Linked DNA regions of Homo sapiens: regions 2, 3 and 4 are each linked to region 1. Evidence: fine-mapped expression QTL. A gene starts in region 1. Each other region holds a variant in brackets. All regions are shown on one strand. Distances are between the middles of the regions. Region 1 holds the start of DPP10 (dipeptidyl peptidase like 10). Region 2 overlaps DPP10 (dipeptidyl peptidase like 10). Region 3 overlaps DPP10 (dipeptidyl peptidase like 10). Region 4 overlaps DPP10 (dipeptidyl peptidase like 10).

Evidence for each region. PIP is the estimated chance that this variant, and not a neighbour inherited with it, causes the effect. A credible set is the group of variants that fine-mapping cannot tell apart.
Region 2: its variant is the best candidate, but not a certain one, in a credible set for the expression of DPP10 in esophagus muscle (GTEx, PIP 0.60).
Region 3: its variant is the best candidate, but not a certain one, in a credible set for the expression of DPP10 in testis (GTEx, PIP 0.52).
Region 4: its variant is the best candidate, but not a certain one, in a credible set for the expression of DPP10 in nasal epithelium (TOPMed, PIP 0.79).

The regions. Positions count from the first base shown.
Region 1 is chr2:114,435,867-114,444,699 of GRCh38, forward strand. It overlaps DPP10 (dipeptidyl peptidase like 10), which reads left to right and starts at 6,775. Exons shown (of 26, transcript NM_020868.6): 1 at 6,775-6,972. The coding sequence starts at 6,913.
Region 2 is chr2:114,775,592-114,779,591 of GRCh38, forward strand. All of the region lies in intron 1 of DPP10 (dipeptidyl peptidase like 10), which reads left to right. Among named protein-coding and RNA genes, the nearest start is that of DPP10-AS3, 56 kb to the right of the region's middle. The variant C/T (reference allele first, on the strand shown) is at 1,762.
Region 3 is chr2:115,156,953-115,160,952 of GRCh38, forward strand. All of the region lies in intron 1 of DPP10 (dipeptidyl peptidase like 10), which reads left to right. The region is part of intron 1 of DPP10-AS1 (DPP10 antisense RNA 1); the gene reads right to left. Among named protein-coding and RNA genes, the nearest start is that of DPP10-AS1, 2.4 kb to the right of the region's middle. The variant A/G (reference allele first, on the strand shown) is at 2,117.
Region 4 is chr2:115,336,335-115,340,334 of GRCh38, forward strand. The region is part of intron 2 of DPP10 (dipeptidyl peptidase like 10); the gene reads left to right. Among named protein-coding and RNA genes, the nearest start is that of DPP10-AS1, 180 kb to the left of the region's middle. The variant C/G (reference allele first, on the strand shown) is at 2,249.

The DNA of each region.
Region 1 (8,833 bases):
TTTAAAGCCTTCTTTGAATGAGGCAATGAAGAGGCTGGAAGAGATATTTTGAATTTGGGTACTTTACTTGCCTTTTCCAAAGACTACAAACATTTAATTTGCTTTAAGACTGCTCCTTGAATTTTTATTCCAGAAGACTTGCCTTATGACCATAATTTTGTAAGATAGAACAAAATTTCCAAACCAGCACTTTGTTCTCTTATATAATGTACAAAATGCTGAAGTTACAAACCACACCTGCCATGGCACCTCCTTAATGCTGCCAAGGTAGCAGTCAGCCTCTGAGTTGGGCACTATCTGCAGTTGAAGACTGTTTACCACAGGGAAAGGAAGGGAACTGAGTCCTGGCAAACACTGGTTCTGCATTCCACTGCTTTGGAGATGTGGGATGCACAGTAGAATCCAGGACTGAATGACTGCCAAAGCTCCCTAAAAATTATAATGATTGTTTTATTGGGCTCATCAATTATCTACCTTACATGTGAACTCCTTTTCAGGTCATAAATGTTGCGACAACACTCAGAACAGGAAGAAATGAAAGCAGGAGAAATGGGCAATCAGGGAGCAATGGTCAAAATTCCTAATAGGCAGATCTTGGGACCTTAGAATAGTATAGGCTGGCTTGGGGGACTGCTGTCACTAATAGCTGAACTAGATGAAGTAGTCTGTCCCTGATGTCTGGGGAACTATAGTGCAATGGATTTTATGTGTGCATTCTGTCTTCACAGTGATTTATGACTTTGGCCATAGAGAAAATTTATTGAAGGCATTTGTCAGGGATTGTGGAGCAGATTGTTATGCTTACATAAAGAGTTACCTCCAGTGTTTATTTCTGTGTGTTCATGAAAGCATCTGTATCTAGAACTGAACATTTCTAAGGCACTTTTGGGGGTCTTGTTTGCTGAGTTATTTGCAACTGGAGAACTGAGGGTGAGGAAAGCTCCAAAAATCCCTTATGAGGAAATCATGGCTATCTATTTTAGTGTTTTATAAATTTAGGATTTGGATCACATTTTCAGCTGGAAGTTTTTGCAGAAGAGAATTATTCCAGAAAACATAAATGTCACCATTAGAACTGTGTAAGACAATGACAGTAGCAGAGATAATGTTTTGCTTTTTTATGGATGTGGAACTCCACTTGGGGCAACTGATAATTTTTGAGATGTTTGTGTTTGGTTCTGGTTAGCAAGCAGCAGGGAGTGGAACCTGTCAGGAATGTCAGTCAACTGGATCTGTGACAGTCGGTCACCCTGAGGTTGGTCTGCATCATACAGACTATATATCCAGTGTACTTGGAAGCAGGCAGCCTCCAGGATAAGAGCAAATTATAGTCAAGGATCAGCTAAGAGGACAGTTTGAAAAGTTTGTGGTGATGATCAAGAGATGAATAGTGGAAAAATCAGGAAGCCAAATCCAGTAACGGGAGATGCAAAGAGGGGCAATTCACACTTGTCAATGAGTGTAGGTCAGTTCTTATTGGATACGGGAATGGCAGCCAGCTCTAAAGCTGGACTGGCATAGGCTAGTCAATAACTTCACTTATTTGTTGATTCTAATCCCTGCTCTCACGTTCTATGTGGTTTTAGGCAATACCTCATGAGAGAAAGAGTACAATAAACTACTTCATTAATTAATTTGGACGATAAATTGAAAATGTAGAGCGAGCACTTCCCACTTTCTATGTGTTTGTGTGTTTGGTTGGAATATTATGGGACATAAGTCTGGAGAGGTGGCTTTCAGACAGTGAATCACACAGTAGTTGATCATCTAATGTAAAAGCGAGTTTAGAAATTTGTGTTCTTTTTCTCATTAAACTTACATTTTATTGCTACTTGAGAATTCATAATACTATATTTGCTTTTTTTTCAGAAAGTCCTTCAAGTGATTACTACTGAAAGAATAAGAAAATGTGAGTTTTACTTTTTGTTGTATTAGTACAGTTACAACGGTTAGTAGGATAAAATAACTTTTTTTATTCGTATAGCAGAATAGTTAAAAGTATGCACTCTTATGTAGTCAGGCCTGCCTGCTCTGCCTCCTACCAATGGCTCTGGCCTTTGCAGAGCTATATGTGCCCAGCAGGGGAAATCCTCATAGCTCACATTCAACTCTGGTATTTCCCCATATGCAAGTGTTATTATGGGTCTGTATCCTACTCCTGAATAACTCAGGAAAAGATATTAGGAAAGCCCTGTTGATAACAAGACACATAGGATAAAGAAGTTCTGTCTTATATTTACCTGAAGTAGCTTTGAAATTAACTTGTCACAGTCTATGGACCATTAAATATAAGCATGTTGGCATCTTAAGGTTGGATGGCAGAGATAGGCATATATCTCTGCATATGAAAAATAAGCAGCAGTAGGGTTATGGCTATCATTAGGGTTACTCAGAATGCTATTCTGATTTTACTGCTACTTGGGTGCATGCTGCACGTCACTTTCTTGTTACCTAAACTTGAATGTAGCCATGAGAGTGGCTTTAGCCAATGGAATGTAAGTAGAAGTGTTTTGTGTCTTTGCTGGGCATAAGCCTTTAAATAAGAGCATGATTTTTCATGTTTCTTTCCTTCTGCCTTGTTGATTGTGAAAGCTTGTATTAAGATGGGGCCTTTATCAGCCTGGATCCCTAAGATTGAAAGAGCCTCACGTGCTCTTCCTCCCGTGCCAACCAGGTATTGGCATGCTGTATAATGAGAAAGAAACCTTCATTATTTTAAACCACTGGGATTTAGAGATTACTTATAAATGTATTTATTTATTTATTTTTATTTTTTGAGATAGAGTCTCCCTCTGTCATTCAGGCTGTAGTGCAGTGGCACAATCTCAGCTCACTGCAACCTCCGCCTCTGGGGTTCAAGCAACTCTCATGCCTCAGCCTCCCGAATAGCTGGGATTACAGGTGTGCACCACCATGCCAGGCTAATTTTTGTATTTTTTTGTAGAGATGGGGTTTGCCATGTTGCCCAGGCTGTTCTCAGACTCCTGGCCTCAAGTGACCCACTTGTCTCAGCCTCTCAAAATGCTGGGATTATCAGTGTAGGCCACTGCACCCGACCTTGGAGGTTATTTGTTATTGAACCATAACTTTGCCTATCCTGACTCTGCAAGTGGTTTCCAGAAAAGATCAATTCTTGAAGACCATGAAGCCACAATTAGACCAGAGACTTCCACTTGAGTGAATCCCGGGAACAATCTGAAGCATAGAAGGTGTTACAAGCAGGGGTCAATCATGAAGAAAGATGTGGCAGGCAGGAGTTAGGTGAGGGTCAAGTCAAAAAAGCCAACCATTAGAAACCATATTCCAGTTCTAGTAGGAAATGCAAATGACTCAGTGGATGGGTCATGAGAAGACCAGAACACAGATGATAGGTGTTAAGATGAGGAGATGATCCCTCAATGGTCATGGAGGGATTTGAATTTTCTACAGTAGATTTCAAAAAAATCAGGGAAACAGCCCAATATCCTTTCAGATACCATTCTTATTGACTAGAGGCCTGGGCTTGCCTAACTTTGCAATCTGTAGGTCATCACTGTGACCAGCTAGTTAGGGCTTGGGCAGATGGGACTTGAAACAAAGAGACGGAAATTGGTAGTAGAATCCATCTGACACTTTGACTTTTTTTTTTTTCTAATGGGATATTTTCATTAACCCCATCCTAAATTTCTATTTCCCGGATCAAATGATAGCTGGTCAAGGAACATCGTGGGTTATATTTTCTGAAAGCGTTAGCCATCTTAATTTTTTTTGTGGGAAAGGTGGAAGGGACTCACTCCTAACTTTTCCCAAACTGTTTGACAACAACATATTTTTATACGGTTATCATAAGTGTTGATTACATTTGAAATTGGTCCTTTGGACTAAATTGTCTAAATTTTCTAGTTCAGTATGATTTACTGTATAGTGTTTCTTCAGCAGATCTAAACCTTAAAAAAAACTACTTCCATGTGACAAACCGTGATGCAATTTTGCAGCTGTTTTCATTCTAAACATATTGAGCCCAATATATCCCAATTAGAAGAAATGTATATGAATTATCCTTATTAAGCGGTATTTGTAATTCTCTAGCACTTGTCTAAATTTCTTTGGTCTCTATTTTCTTCTAGTTGTACATTCCAATTGGCTACATTAAGATACAGCAGATTTTACAAAATAATGAACAATTTATACATGTTTTAAATAGAAATGTTTAAAAATTACTATGGTTTTCATTTCCTTGATTCATGAAATGATAATATAACAGAAAGGGAAAACAAAATCCAAAATGAGATTTGGGTCATATGTTTTGCTCTGAACACTTGATTTTTCTTTGGAACTTGGAGTTTGATATAATGTGGAGCCTGGAAAGGGAGCATATGGTGTATACGAGGCACTCTTTTCTCTTACTGTGATTTTTCTCTATTTTCAAAATGCAACTTTGGGAAAAGATTTTAGGTGGATTCTGGCCACCTACCTATAAATGGTAGTGTCAATATCTTTCTTGGATCCTGCTGCCATCCAGGTGGGGGTAGAACCTTTTTGAAAAATTGTAGAAAAGGGGTGAAGTCTCATGTGATTATAGTTGTAGAAATCCAGCAACTCATACCCTCTTTGTGGTAGGCATATAAATGCTGTCTCTATCAATGTGCCTGGAGAGGGTTCCTTGAAGTACTAGTGGCTCCTTCCATCCTGTACAGTTCTTTGATGGGGATGGGATACTCTGAACTCTTGGACTGCTCTCCCTCCCTGGGCTCCCCAGATAATTTAGTTTGGAAGTTTCTTAGATACCTAGTACAAAGTGCTATCTAAGAAAGGAATTAAGCCAATTCTACTGGTATAGAACATTCATTTATTCAGAGATTATCAAACTGTAAACCACCTGATGAAATGTTCATAGGTTTTTTCATTGAGTATTTTGTATGTTTTTTACTTCATTACTTTCTTCTCTTCTCTTTATTGTTTCCCCCCTATAATTTATTTGAGTTTATTTTGCCATTCTTTTTCCAACTCTTTGATATGAATAATTAGCTTATTAATTATTAATTTTATGCTTTTCTGCATTTCTGGTATAGGTACTTAATTATATACATTTTCCTTTAAATATTGATTTAGCTGCATACTGCAAATTTTCTGTGTTGTTTTCATTATTGTTGAATACAAAATGTTTAAACATTTTTAATATACTCTTTTTGTGATTTATGAATTATTCAAAGCAATGCTATTCAAGCAAAATACAAGATAAGCCACAAATTCCAGTCACATTTGTGATTTAGAATTGTAAACTTCAAATCATGAGATTTGTTGGCCCTATGGCTGCCTCTGGTTGTGCTCAATATGATGCCTGGATATTGCTACACCAGATTCTTGCACACAGCCTTTTGCCTGGTTCTTATTGGCTCCATCTCTTTTCCCATGATTCTCCTGATTTCTCCAATACTCTTGCCATTAACTTTTGTGGCTGCAAACAGTCTGATCTTACTTCTGTCACATCCTTACCTCCACTTTGCTACTCAGAACTATAACCTTCTGAAACTTAGCCATCCTCAAACATGTGCAGACTACTTTGTCAGAATGTTTAGATCCCTTTTCTGTTTTACAAGAGAAAATATGTGTTTATAATTATGTATAAATTAATTTCACCAAACATTAATTTATTTCATTTCACATTAAAGTTTATCTGTAATATTTTAGGCTGTTCATAAAAGCCTCCTGAATGTAGTTCGTTAGTTCAATCTTATAAACCTAGCATTTCATTAGTAGGATACATTTCTGATGAATAAATACTGTTGGTTTTCAACATCAAACACTTTGCAACAAAAGTTGGAAAAGAGTGTCCTGCATTTACTCAAGACTACTGGATCTTATTTCCAACCAGGATATATTTATTCTAGTTAGTGTTGATGTGACAATGGGGACTGGTGACTCGGAAAACTTAATTTACAAATATTTATAATTTATTTTGCCTAAAATGACATTAGGGACAGAGAGGTGACCATTTGGGGAGTTAGACTGGCATGAGCTAACTACCAGTTTGTCCCAGGCATTCAAAAAATACGGCTTCAAGGAAAGCAATGGTCAAAAATAAAGGTTGAAAATAAAAACATTGTCTAGCTTTGGTGCGATATCCAAAAACTACAATAACTATTGTATTTGAAAACTTTTTAAATATACCTTAAGCTTTCTGCCACCTTACAGAAAGGACAGTCTCTTGGCTGGCTGTTATGGCTAAATTTTAAAAATATCCATAGGGAATATCAGTCCTTCAACCTATAGATATAAAACCCCCAAATTCTGAAACTGCCAACAGTCTTTTTTTTTTTTTTTCCACAGCATTTACTTGTGTTTTGATTGCAAGAAGTACCCAGGAAGGAATAAAATTTAGTAACAGAATGAGGATGTTATGATTTTTTTTTAAACTGGGTTAGGGGTGGGGAGAGGGAGAGAGAGAGAGAGAAATATTTTGCACTGGAAAAACTATAATCTGGAGAGACAGAGGAGTTGAGAGTGCCCCTTTAAACTGCAGGACTGCAATTGATCTCTGTATGTTTTCTGGTTTTCGTCCCTTTGAAAGGGGAATGAGAGCCAGGATCATTGGCTGTACTGTGGAGCTGTCACATCTCCATACTGAAAAGGTACACTGCAAGTGAATTTAAACCGTTTTTGGCTTTCTATTGCATATTGCCAAGAGCTTTGAGACTGATGAACCAAGTAAATGCTCTATTTAGGGCTAAGTGAGATACAGATTCCTCCAATCTGATAGCGTTTCAGCCTCCGGAGTGAGGAAGCAGCAGAAACAGAAGCAGCAGAAGCAACAGCAGTAGCAGCGGCAGCAGCAACAGCAGCAGCCCCTACTGAAGTCCAATAGAGGAGACTTGATCTCTAGTTCATTCTGGAACTCCGCCTGGGATTGTGCACTGTCCAGGGTCCTGAAACATGAACCAAACTGCCAGCGTGTCCCATCACATCAAGTGTCAACCCTCAAAAACAATCAAGGTAGGATCTGGTTTTTCCCTCTGCTTCTGCACATGTGTCTTCATTCATCTACCTAACACATGGGCATTGATATATCGGGGTACTGACAGTGGACATACCTACTTGATTTGAGTTTGAATTGAAGGTTGAGTCACAATAAAGCATTTGGCTCTGCATGTGTGTGTAGACTGGAAAGAATAGTTTCCACTGAACACTTCTTTCATCTTCATGACTTTTTTTTTTTTTACTGAGAATCTATCAGAGGTATATTTCCAGAAGAAAGTTTTGTGAGTGTCTAGAAGAGTTTCCAGTCCATGCCAATTTTCTTGATAGAACTGGGGAAGAATTTGCAAACTGCTAGAAATAAATAGCATCAAATTGACTACAAATCTGATAACAGGATTTCATTGTCATATGAATTTTGGATCTCTTATCCTTTTTTAAAAAAAGCTCATCCTTCATTGTGAGCATTGAACTGGTGGTTATACTAAAGTGATTATAGTGAGAGAGGATGAAAGACTAGAGAGAGAGTATAAAATCACATGTCTTTATTTATATCACCATGTAACTCAAAACCAGTGAGATGATTGGAGACACTCTTCAATGCAGGTGTTGTTTAAAATTTGAGGCTTTTCTGACAGCACATGGTTAAAGGTAAAGAACAAACTCACAATTTCACTCTTCTGTTTTAGTTTCAAGTCATGCTTATACCATTCTCTTTGTTTTTATTCGGGATGCTCTTATTTCCAAGAAGGCTTATAAACGACCAGACTTCCAATCAAAGTTTACTATATTTTGCCATTTACTTGAATTGTATTATTATCTATGTGGATATTTTGCATCTTGAGGGAAAGTGATGGATTCGTCTGAAACTCTTTTATGAAAAAAAAAAAAAAACTAAAACAAAAAACGTGATATCCTGACAGGGCATCTTTAGTTACTGCAATCTCTCATTAACATACAAGTGCATACCTTTTGCTACTATTCCTGATAAGCCTGACTTTTTATGATTTATATTATGTTTTGGTTTATGTCTCAGGCCTTTAATAATATTGCATAGACTGTAATTACAAAAGGAATATAATTTTCAACAATGTCTCTTCTTCATGAATTTACCTACCGTTTGCCAGAGTGTTTCAGTGATAGATAAACCATAAACTAAACATGTTCCTCTATTTATTAGCAGTGACTTTTAAAAGCAATGGGGTTTCCAGGGTATATTAAATGATGCATAATTAGATTCCCATCATACATAAACATAGGGAGTTAACTGAAATCATGCAGAACTCATATTCAGATAATTTACACCACCTCTAATAACAGATATGAGAATCTTTTTCAGCATTAGATTTTCTGTGCTGTATCTAAGTTTAGAAATAAAAAATGTTGAGCTTTTGGTATAGTTTTCCTCTGTGTATCAGTTTCCCACATACATCAATTATCTAAGCATATCACTGAACAAAGCCAAAATAGTAAATACATGACACTCTACATTGGGATATATAAGCTCTAGTGGGAAATATGTATTGAAGCCTAAAGTGGGATAGAGTTACAAACTGGCTGCCTACTGCTAAGTATGTCTAGAATGCTATAACAAAACCAGTGGCTTTCTGTTTAAGAGTCTGAGGTCACAGGAATCAAGCATTTATTTTCCCTTTTCTTTATTGAGTAAGCATAAATGACTACTACTTTCAGAGACTTCAAATCACTTCCTTTATTAGTGCTCTGGCATTGGCTGCCCACAAACAAACTGTGGAACAGAAAAAAAAATGTTTCTAGTGTAGAGGTTTTACATCATCTTGCTGATCTTGCAGATGCTGTTTTTTCCTTCTAACTGCAGCCATTGAGTTGAAATGAAAAGTATCATAAAAATTGGACAACC
Region 2 (4,000 bases), 340 kb after region 1:
TCTAGCAGGCTGAGGAAGCCTAGAAAGTTTGCATTCTCTAAGCAATGTTAGCATGAACTCTTTGTACTCATTACTTCTTAGTATATGGCAGCAGCTTCAGAAAGGTGAGTCAGGAAACATTCACATTCCCAACAATTAGAATGTCACCACTCTTTGTTCATTCTTTTGAATTATAGTCAAGAAGTGTCTTATTAATTCAACACAATGCATAAATATATCTTGAGTATCTCCAATGAATCATGTACTGTTCAAGCCTCTGGCAATACAAACAATAAAAGACACTCCTACGTCTCAAGGAACTATCACTTTGGGTGACAGAGAGAGACATCTAAACAAATATACTTACAATGTTGGTAATACATTCATGGAGGCACATGGGAAGGACCCAGAAGCAGAGGAGGTTCACTGTGCTTGGATGCAGATAGCAGGAGTTAATATGGAAGAAGTCAAGAATGTCTTCCCAGAGATGGTGAAAAACAAAATGAGTTTTGAAGATATGATGGGAAAATACACTGATTTTTAGATATAGCTCTAGATAAAAATAAAGAGACAAAGTGTTACAGGTAAAATTAGCTGCAGATACATCTTAGTTGTCATGTAGTTGATCCAATTGAGTGAACAATTGAACAACAATTAGAACACAAACAAACCTCCATGATCTGAGGCCTGCTGAACTCTCTTTTCTGACAGCCCTTCCCACTGCACATTGGATATAGAATGATGCCATGGCATTCCATGCATCCATGCCTTTGAACACACTATCTCCTCTGCTTGAATGACCTTTGCTGCTTATGTAGAAGGAAAAAACAGTTACATTCATACCTAAGGTTCCAGAGCTTCCAAGACCTTGTCAAAGAAAATAGACTCCTAGCTTTTCTCTACTGAATGCAATCTCCGTTATCAGGCCATAAGCTCCTTAGGAGCTAGCGCTAGATCTGAGTGAACACTGCCAGTAGTGTGATGAATTTGGCTTTTATAGGCTCAAAAGAAATATTGTTAAATGTACAACATTTTTTGAGCCATTTGTTAAATTTTTGGCAGCTTGAAGTCATCTATGGTGGGAGCTGACAAACACTACATTAAAAAAAGATCAAAAAATTTGTTGGATAAATTACATTAGAGTAATTTTTAAAGTCACATATTCAAGTTGTAGTGATTTAAATTAAATAAAGTTAGTGCAGATTATAAGAATTGATGAGTATTGAATTGATGAGTATTGGAAAAGGGGATGAGTGGAGACACCTCTCTGAGCAGTGTGAGTTTTGAAAAGGAAATCAAATTATTAGAGAAGATAATGGTAGCCAAAAAGACTTTCTAAGGATCAGTGTTCTCATAATTAAAAAAAAGAAGGCATAAGAATTTCTGCCAAACATACTTTTTCAAAAATAAAAAAGATATATGAAAATGTTTTATAAACCATGTAGTACATAACTATATAATATATACATTATATAGTGTATAGTTGCAATTATTGGACTAAAAGCAGTTAATACAGGCTTTACATATGTTAAGACTTTTATTCAGAAGTAAATGAAATGTACTCTTTGAGAATGGGTATATTTTATTGTTTTTTATAACCATATTCTCATTTATTTTTGAAACTCTTCTTAGAATAAGAAAAGAGTACAGGAAGACCAACAAGTCACATTCAAACCTTATAATTCTGCAGCCTAGGAAACACTGTCTTGTGCTGGAAATGGCTTCCTTTCTTCCTGGTCCAACTTTTTTGAACTGCCCATGGATTTTGCACTGTACAAATCA[C/T]AATCCTTAGAAATATATTACCCACATACATTTCTGAAGAGGGTTTTCAGGGCCCTTTTTTGAGTATTACTTTTGGATATATTATTCCTACTAAATTATATTTCTTCCAGAAAAAGTTTTGAAAAGTTGGCAACCTCCCTATTTCAGTCCTTCATATTATGCCACTTGTTACAGTCATAAACAGCAAGGAAAGAAGGAAGTTTGACCAAATGCAAATGGCTGGGAAGAAGTAGCCCTTTCAGAGTTGCTGAATGTCTCGTGTGAAAATGCTTTGTGGCTGAGCTTAAGAAATAAATATAAAGTAGTATTTAAATCCTCATCTCAAAGCTTCTATCAGTAATAGATATGAAGCCCAAAGCAGTAAATGTTTAAATGACTACTTTACATCTCTTAAATGCAGTGTTATGTCCTGGCTATATGGTAATGACATCATTAAACAGAAATCCTTTGAGCCGCAGAACCAAGATGCTTTATAGTAAGTTCTATGAAGTTACATAGTCAAAGAGTTCACTGTTCTTTAAGTTAGACTCATATCCGCAATTTTATGACAGGTTCTGCTTAAATAATTGTAGGGTAGTGGTAAAGCATGGACTTTAGGGTCAATAATCTGAAGATCTAAATTTGAATTTGTCGTGTCTTTCATTAGTTAGCTGACATTCTGGATTTCAGTTTCAAGACCTTTAAAATGGGAATAATAGCAATCATCTTAAACATGTCCAAGAAAGAGTGAGACAATTAAATAAATACATTACTAAGAAGGGCTATAAATGAAATGTTATTATAGGTATTAGCATCATCATTATCATTCATTACCCTAATCATTATCATCTTTAAGCAATATTAAGGGATGACACTTACAGATAGACTGAGTCTTACTCTCTGGGTCAAGAAGGTTATTTCAAAATGCAAGTTACTAAAGTATATTATATATGCAAAACATTTGGCTTATTAAAACTCAAGTGTCATGGCTCATAGCCGAGACCTGCACTTTCATATAAATGTGATTTGATCATATGTATCATATTCAAAAATATCTATTAGTCCTATAACGTTAGCCACAGTGGCTAATTTCTATAATAGCTTCACATTTTAGTTACTTACCAACATAAATATTTATTTCTTATTTATGTTACAGTAAACTTAAGTTTGCTTGGGTGGAAGGTTGTCTCTTTTTCACGCAATTATTTAGAGTTCCAGGCTTCATCCATCTAATGGCTTTGTTAAAGTCTAGAGTCTTGGAGTGTACCACTGACTCCGTTAATCTGACCGGCAGATAAAATAGTAAAGAAATCATGGAAGCTTGCAAGGAAAGTACATGAACCAGGCCTGGAAGTGGTATATACCACTTCCATGAAAAATCCTACTGGTTTAAAATCGGTCGCATGACTGCACCTAATTGCAAAGGAAGCCAGAAAATGTAGTCCACCTATATGCTCTGATGGAAGATAAAATGGATTTGATGAGTCTTGCCAGCCTCTGCCATAGGGTTCTAGCATATTACAATAAATTATGAATTTAATTGACCGAAAGACAAAGCGCAACTTAATGGTGTCACAATCCCATGTTAGTTATAAAAAATAATGTATAATCTATTCTCCCCTTTATGGTTACTGTAAAAATTAGTAGCACCCTAGTTAATTCAATGCCAGAAAGCAGCTGTCTTGAGAGTTCATGGTCTTAAGCTTTACATGCCTGGGCTCTATTTTTGGTCCAGTGGAGTTGGTACCTCTGGGGCCTGAGTAATCCCGTGTTGCAGCAGACAGAGTTCCTCTGCTGCAGTCAGGCCTTCTCATCAGTGTATACCCCTGTGAAACTTCCAGACTACACAGAATAACCTGGCTTTCTCTCCTGGATGTGGATGTGGACACTAAATGCTCTTCATCTGAACGAAGAGGTTTGTGTTTCATAAAGATTAAGCTAACTATGAGGAAAAAACAGGCAACCAGACTCTTCTGAGATTTTCTGTCTGCATATAGACATCAATATAAACATAGGTATATGTTTGTTCAGTATGGCTTTTATTATTAACAGAACAAGAGCCAGCTCCCTGAGAGCTACCCAAGGTCCTAAACCACCTCTGATCAAAGTTATCTCATATCTAGGGTAGCAGAGGACTCCTGATTTTTCAGAGGACCTATTCCCGTCATATCTTATAAAATGTAATGATTGACTTCTTACATACAAGCTGCTAATTTTGATATGGTCTAAGCTGATATCAGTTTACGCTGAGGACTTTTTC
Region 3 (4,000 bases), 720 kb after region 1:
TTTTCTTTTTTACTGTGCCGACATAACCAATTCATTAAATGACAACTCTTAAAAAATAAAGAGCAAAATAAAGAAACACACATCCCTTGTTGGGCATCTAGTGGGTAAACATGACAACAGCAGGTAAATTTCTCACGTTCTCAAGTTGTTTTGGTGTTACAATTCAGCTACATGTATACAGAGAAAAGCATACACGGTAAAATAATCTGCATTGTTTTACTGTCTTAATTCCTGTATATATGACACAGAAGGGCGGTGGGGTGAAAGGAAGATGTGAGGTTTTAAATATAGCAAAAAAAAAAAAAAAAAGAGAGATTTGACAACACTGGACCTCAGTAGGCATGGGCAATTTGTTCAATATCTTCAGGTCTCCAGAGAGCAAGAATGACTCTCAGGATATTGCAACTCTGTCTGCTTCCACCAGAGATCATAATTGGGCTATGAATTTTTATAACAGGAAAGTCTTCCTGTCAAAGACAGAGACTGACAAAAACTTTAGTTAACTGATACTGAAAGAAACTCAAAACAGAATGAATAGTATACATGAGTATCACTTATATATATAGTGCCTTTACTTCTTTCTTCTTTTTTACTTTAAAAGTAAATTCCTGTTATAGTTTACTGGTTAGAGCTTCTAAAATGTAGCTTGTTTATGAGGATTGCTCAGCATACTGGTTTTCTGTCCAGGGACATGATGTGCATTTTGGGGAATTCAAAACCCGATTGAGGTGAGTAGAGGTCATTCATAAATCGAAACCAAATGATAGCAGAAGATATGAACTAAAGCTATTTCTTTATCTGCAAAGAGCTAATTGGGCATATTTCAGGCCAAGTCTCTGAAGACACAGCTCGTGAACTCTGTCTTCTTGATGCTGTGCTCATTATAGACACTCAACAGAGGACTGGCTAATGCTAGGGAAATCCCCATCAAGGTGGTCTTTACATGACACTGCAGATTTACCTCAGGAAGGGGAGCAAAGAGAAGGAAAATGCAGTGAGGGTTTCTAGCAACTAGCTGCTTGTGGAGTACTGTTTGCCTTGTCTAATTTATCTGAAACTGAAGAGTTTGTCTCTAAAGGGTATCCTACTTCAGAAAATCTCAAGGGACATTTGTCTTTCTGACATATCAGCTGTTAGCTAGACCTTATTTCTTACTTGGTTGTTTTTAGAGTAAATTTTGGTTCTTTGGTCCTTTGTCTGCTATTTGAGGTGGAGGATTAAATACTGCATAGATGACCTATGTATGTATAGAACAACCTAATTTTGCCACAGATACCAAAACACTATAACGATAATCTTCAATTAATCCAATTATTATCTAAATTTCATAACCCGTCCTCAATTATCTACCTTAATATTTCTAGGTAAAGAGAGATGTACTGCATTGACTTCCTGTTTTTAAAGGGTAAAACAGCAAGAGAAAGAAAGACATTGTAGATATTCACAATGTTGTATGTGAGGAAGTTTTTGAATGGCTTCAGAAACCCAAATGAATATATTGAGAAAGCAGCATTGTGAGTTCTGTCTACATGTGAACCCAAAACTAGGATTTGAGGTAATCCATTTTCAGAAAGAAGTGATGGAGTTTGAATTCTAGGAAATCTTCCTGAATAAAATGGCCATGTGTTGTAAAGTTTAGATATTTATAACCCAAAATAGAAGGAATTTTGCTAGGTGATCTCTCCAGTTCCTTTTCAGTTATGAGAGTCTGATTTCTTCCCATGAAAAGTGTAGAAAAACTTCCTTTACTGTTATATGAATGTTATAAAATGTATGCTTGTCCATGAATTAGCTGATCAAAGATAATACATGAAAAAGTATTCAAAATACTCTGTGAATCTTTTTTTTAAAAAACTCTCTTTAAATAGATTTTTGTATTCAGAAGTTATGCTTTGTAAATACATTTTAAATTTCAGATTTAAACATTATCAAGACAAAATTGTGACTATGTGCATGTAAAACTAGAGAGCACTGGAAAATATGGTGGATGGTAAGGGCCTTTTGCAAGGTAATTAACTTATCTATTGAGTTTTTTTTTTTTAATTTCTAAGTACTTAATTGACTCTCCCACTAAAATTTAAACATATACAAATAATTTTTCATTCAGAAGATAGGC[A/G]TTTGATTTATAACATCAACATATCATCACAAAAACTTAGAGAATGAGAATATCTTAATGGGCACCTGGTCTAAACATTTTAATTTTACCAGGTAAAAAGGTGGAAGTGGCATGGCATGGTGGCTCATGTCTGTAATCCCAGCACTCTGGGAGGCCGGGGTGGGCGGATAACTAGGTCAGGAGATCGAGACAATGCCGGCTAACACGGTGAAACCCCGTCTCCACTAAAAATGCAAAAAATTAGCTTGGTGTGGTGGCGCGCGCCTGTAGTCCCAGCTACTTGGGAGGCTGAGGCAGGAGAATGTTTCTTTAAAAATAACATCATTAGAAACCATACAAAACAGAACTGCAAATACTCCCTTCTAAGGTGTAAGGTATTCCAACATTTCTTGTTTGGACGTTAGAATTTTTTCTTCAGTAAGAAATTAAGTTGAAAATGAAGTAGAACATCTTACACTGTAATTCAAGTGCAATACATTAAAAAAATAAAAACAGTGTTTAAATTGGGAAAATCCGTTTACATGTGATTAAGTTTTAATCAGTGCCCTTAACCCAGATCTCAACAGCTAAAAATGTTCTTAGCTTGACAAAATAACAACCCATCCCCAAGGACAAATACTTAAATCAAAGAAGCATTTTATAAATAAAAAAATTCACGCACACATACACACACAGACCCCCACAATACATGAAACATATAATAATGTTTGTCTTTATTTGTAATGAAGTGGATTTTATACTGAATTCAGAACACAGATGCAAATTCAACAGTTGAACTCAATCAAATAAGTAATCTTATATAAAAGGATATCTCCCTCCAGCATGTACTTATCCTGTGTGACAGATATCTCTGTAATAAAGTAAATTCCTTCAACTCAAGCAGATTGTCCGAAATGGAAACACAATGAAAGGATGAATATACTCAAATAATCAACAGAAGAGCAAAATATAAAAATGCGAACATTTTCTGAATAATGCAGATGCCCTCCCTCCAAAAGAATTACATGTGAGGGAATATCTATATTGTCATAATTACTGGATAAGCTGCCCAATAGCTATTACACTAATGTTTCATTAAAAATATATATTTGCTTTATGCTTTTGCAACTTGCAAAGTTATTCCTAGCAAAAAGTTATTTCTCCTGAAACAGAATAAATAGGTCTTTCACAATATGCACTGGAATACATATTTTTGAAAAACAAGATCTCCACTCACCTCTAATTCTATCTTTCTGCTGGTGATTACTGATATATTTATTTTAAAATACATACTTTATAGGAAGTATCGTTACAATTAATATTTAGGACAACATTATAATTCGTGTTTTAGAAACTACTAAGGCAAGAGGACAGCTCCTACCATTCTACAAAAGTCTTTCAGTTAAGAAGTGACTAATTAATGGACTGAGTGGCTCAGAGCAGGGAGCCAGTCCTTAGCCAATAAAGCCCAACTCACTGCCACCCCACTGCCCCATATTCTCTGTCCTCTCTGCTGGAACTGTCTTGTGCTGAATACATGAACACCTAAATATTCAACTCACTCCTGCCATTTCTCCGGTAAGCAATCTTCCACAACCTGTGCCTGAGACTTGGAGGCTGTTTGTGGTCCACAGGCTTTAGGCGCCCTAGGGAAAGCCACGTGCACTAGTGCATCTGGATGAACTGTGGACTTTGTCTATCCGCGGTAATTCAACTTCCTAAGAGCTACATTGACTCATTGATTTGTATCCAGGCTCCGGGCTCCCAATTCCCACACAACGTAAGCTCCCTGCAGCCAGGGGATTTGGTAGGTTTGCCGTGTTGTTTAGTTTCTCTCCCCTGCGACCCTCTCTCTGAGCCTCACAGTGTGTTTGGCACGTGGTAGGTGCTCGGTAAACCTACTTT
Region 4 (4,000 bases), 900 kb after region 1:
AAGCTGAACTTTTTACTTAAGATTCTACAATACCTTGTAACTATTTAACCAATAAGGATTCTGTTTCCAGGTCTCTAAATACTTGTGAATTGTTAAACCATATATTTATTTGGATTTTTGTGTCCCTATTCATAATTATAGTATCTGATAGGGTTAACAAATATTTACACTTTTAATAGCAACTATTAAAATATAGTAGGTTTTCAGACTTTCATACATGTGTACTCTCTCTCTCTCTCTCTCTCTCTGTCTCTCTCTCTCTCTCTATATATATATATATAATTGTGCCTTATATTTTGTTACAGAATCACTAGAGATATATTCTCAAGTAACTTGCTAGTAAGGAGAACAACCTATGAGAGGTGAATATTAAATTTTAGCAATATTTTCTTTACATTAGGGACTAAGTATTGATTTTAGAATTTCTTTCTCTAAAGATTAATAAAAATTAATAATATTTTGAAAGAGTGTCTCAAAATGATTTACAATCTAATATTTTTTTCTGAGCCACCTTCTCGTTGTTCAGTGTGAGTGATTGAGATGAATGATTGATATCCAGGTTTCTCTGTTTGCTAGGTAAAAATAAAGAGAAAATTATTTAAATGTATCAAATAGTAAGATTTCTCTAGGTGATTCTCCCTGGGTCTGATTCTAACATAAATTAAGTTCCTGCTAAATTACGTTGCAATGTGAGTAATAAATGTTTGTTGATGACTGAGTTCCGTTGTAACTATAAATTGCCTGTAACAATGAGCAGAGGGTAAGCTTGGAATTTAAGACATATTGTAGACAAGTGTCTTGAAGAAAGCAAAAAAAAAAAAAAAATTCCTACATTTTAGTGAATGCTGTGACATTTCTCTCTTTGAGAAAAGAGGATATGCTATTATCTTCCTGGGCAAGTTGAGGCAGAATGGGATGCTAATAAGCTCCAGAGGGGCTTACACTAAGGAGTTGGATTTCAGTTGGAAGAAGGGTTCTAGTGGCTAAAAGGCAATAAGAATATTCCTAAAATATTTTTGTAAGATTGTATATTGTCTTGTGAAAAGATGCTATTAATACATTATTAAAGAGAAAAGGAAAGAAAACTTATTTTTGGGAGATAGTATAGCTTAATGAAGAAAACCTAAAGTCAGAGAGATGCAGGTTCAAGTTTCAGCTCTGCCAATTACTAGTTACGTGGTCTTTGTCAACATTGCCGAGCCTGTTTCTCTGTGAAATGAGGATACTAATACCCAGTAGGGTTTGGGGGACATTCAGAAAAGAGAGGATTGGTTGCAAGGAATGAACATCCCGAAGGATTACAATGAGACAGGGGGAGGCTGCTCATAAAAAAAAAAAAAAAAAAAAAAAAAAGATAGAGGATAGAAGTTAGCCTTGGAGGCTATTAAAAGAGAAGCTTAATTATTCATTATGTGTATAAGGAAGGAGTCTTTATTCTAGGAATGAAAAATTCAAGAGACCTCAGGGTAGGCAGCTAAGGAAAATTTAAGGAAAGGAACAAAGAAAGCAACACAGAAGAAGAAAAAAACAAAGAAATGAATGAAGTATATAGTTTTCTCAGTATTGAATAAAGCCAAATACATTAATTATTAAATTACATAATATCTCCTTCTCATTATTGTTTAAACAGAAGATTTATTTATAGTTATTTGAATTGCTTTGAAGGGTTGGTTTTAGAATAAGTTCCAGGGGCAATTGGAGTTAAAAAATATTATTAAAATTATTAAACTATTCCAGAGCACAGAAAATAAACACAACTTCAAAAATATTGAATAAATGTATTAATGTGCCAAGTGATCAATATAATACAGAATGGAAAACAAAGGACTGTGTAACTTTGTCTGTTAACCTAGATGTAAACATTTAAATAAAAGTTTAACATATTAATCTAATAGTATAAAAATAAGAATTCAACGTGCTTGGTTGGATTTTGTTACAGACATATCGGGTGGTTGTAAACAGGAGATTGTATTTATGTAATTTTTATATCAATGTGTTAAAGGAGAAAAATATGTTTATATAAAAGAGTCTGGAAAGAAATAATGATTATTTCATAATGGAAAAAAAGCAATGTCACTGACACTATGATCATTCAACATTTTTTTAAAATAAATTAATTTTTTTTAGTTTTAGGGATTAGGCCTCACTCTCTTGCCCAGGCTGGAGTGAAGTGGCGCAGTGGCACAGTCATAGCTCACTCTAACCTTGAACTAACTCCTCAACTCAAATGATCCTCCTGCCTCAGCCT[C/G]CCAAGCAGCTGGGATTATAGACATGAGCCACCTTGCCCAGCTCAGTATCATTTTTCACATTCAAGCTAATGAAATAATTCAATAGAATTAAACAAATGCTTTTCAAAAATGAAGTTGGAACAATTAGTCATCCATAGACACAAAACAAAATAAACCAGCAGACAAACAAAACTTCATATTAAGCCTCATGCCATGTGTGAAGATATACAAAAAGTAACTCAAAATAGAGCAGGGAGGAATATGTGAAATAAAACTATAACATTTTTTAGGAAAAAGCCATAGGAGAAAGTTTCAAGACCAAGAAATAGGTGAAACATTGTTAGACTTGACAGCAAAAGCACGATTCATAAAAGGAAAAATTGATTACCTGGATCTCATAAATATTGATACCTTTTTCTCCACAAAACATTTTCTAAAGAGGGTGAAAAGACAACTTACAGACTGGAGGGAAATATTTGAAATTCACGTATCTGACAAAGCATTTGTATTTAGAATAGACGAAGAACTCATCAAATGCAGCATTAAACAAACACACCAACGAAATAATTCAGTTAGAAAGTGGGCGAATGACATGAACAGATATTTCACTGAAGACTATATGGGAATCATAAATAAGCACATTAAATGATGTTCAACCTCATTAGCTACTAGAGAAATGCAAATTAAACCACAAGGGGATATCACTACACGTATATAAGAATAGCCATTTTTTTTTAATGACATCAAATGCTGCCGAAGATGCAGAGAAACTGGATCATTTATACATTGCTGGTGAGAATGTAAAATGGTAAAACTACTGTAAAAAAGCATATGGAATTTTTAAATAAAACTGTAATGTGTTTACATTTGACCCAGCAACTGCATATTTGGGCATTTATCTTGGAGAAAAGAAAATGTATGTTTGTACAAAAATCTATAAAAAAATGTTTATAGTAACTTTATTTTTAATATCCCCAAACCAGAAATAACAATAACTCAAATGTTCTTCAATGAGTGAAGAGTTAAAGAATGGTCTCTCAATACCCTGGAATATTACTCAGCCATCAAAAGTGATAGATTATTTATACATTCAACAACTTGAATGGATCTCAAGGGAATTATTCTGAGTGATAAAAGCCAGTCCAAAAGCTTAGGTATGGTATGATTGTGATTATATAGCATTCTTAAAATTACAAAATTTTAAAAATGGAGAACAGAGTAGTGGTTGGTTGCCAAGGGATTGGGTGGGGGACTGTTAATGAAAGAGTGGCAGAAGAGATCCTAGTGATGGAACTGTTCTTGACTGTGGTGCTGGTCACCTGTGATGCAGTTGCGTAGAACTAAACACGCAAGAATGCACGTGAATAAATGAATACATGTAAAACTGCAGAAATCTGAGTAAGGTTGATGGAGTATATCAATGTCAGTTTCTTTTCGTGATATTATTATGCAGGATGTTACTTGTCATTGAGAGAAACTGAATGAAGAGTACACAGACTTTCTCTGTAATATTTCTTGCAACTTCATATGAATCTTCAATTACCTGGGAAGCAAATGCATACATAGTATAATTAGTTGCTTAAAATTTGGAAAAGAAAGAAAAAAGTAATATGTTTACAGATGCTATAATTTAATATGTAGAAAATAAAAACTCATAATTGAAATGTTTAAGAAAATGTGATATGGTGTAATCATTAATCTTATAGGTATAAAAATAATTTAGAATGGGAATGGGAAATATTCTGTTCACAATACCAAACTATATATACTTT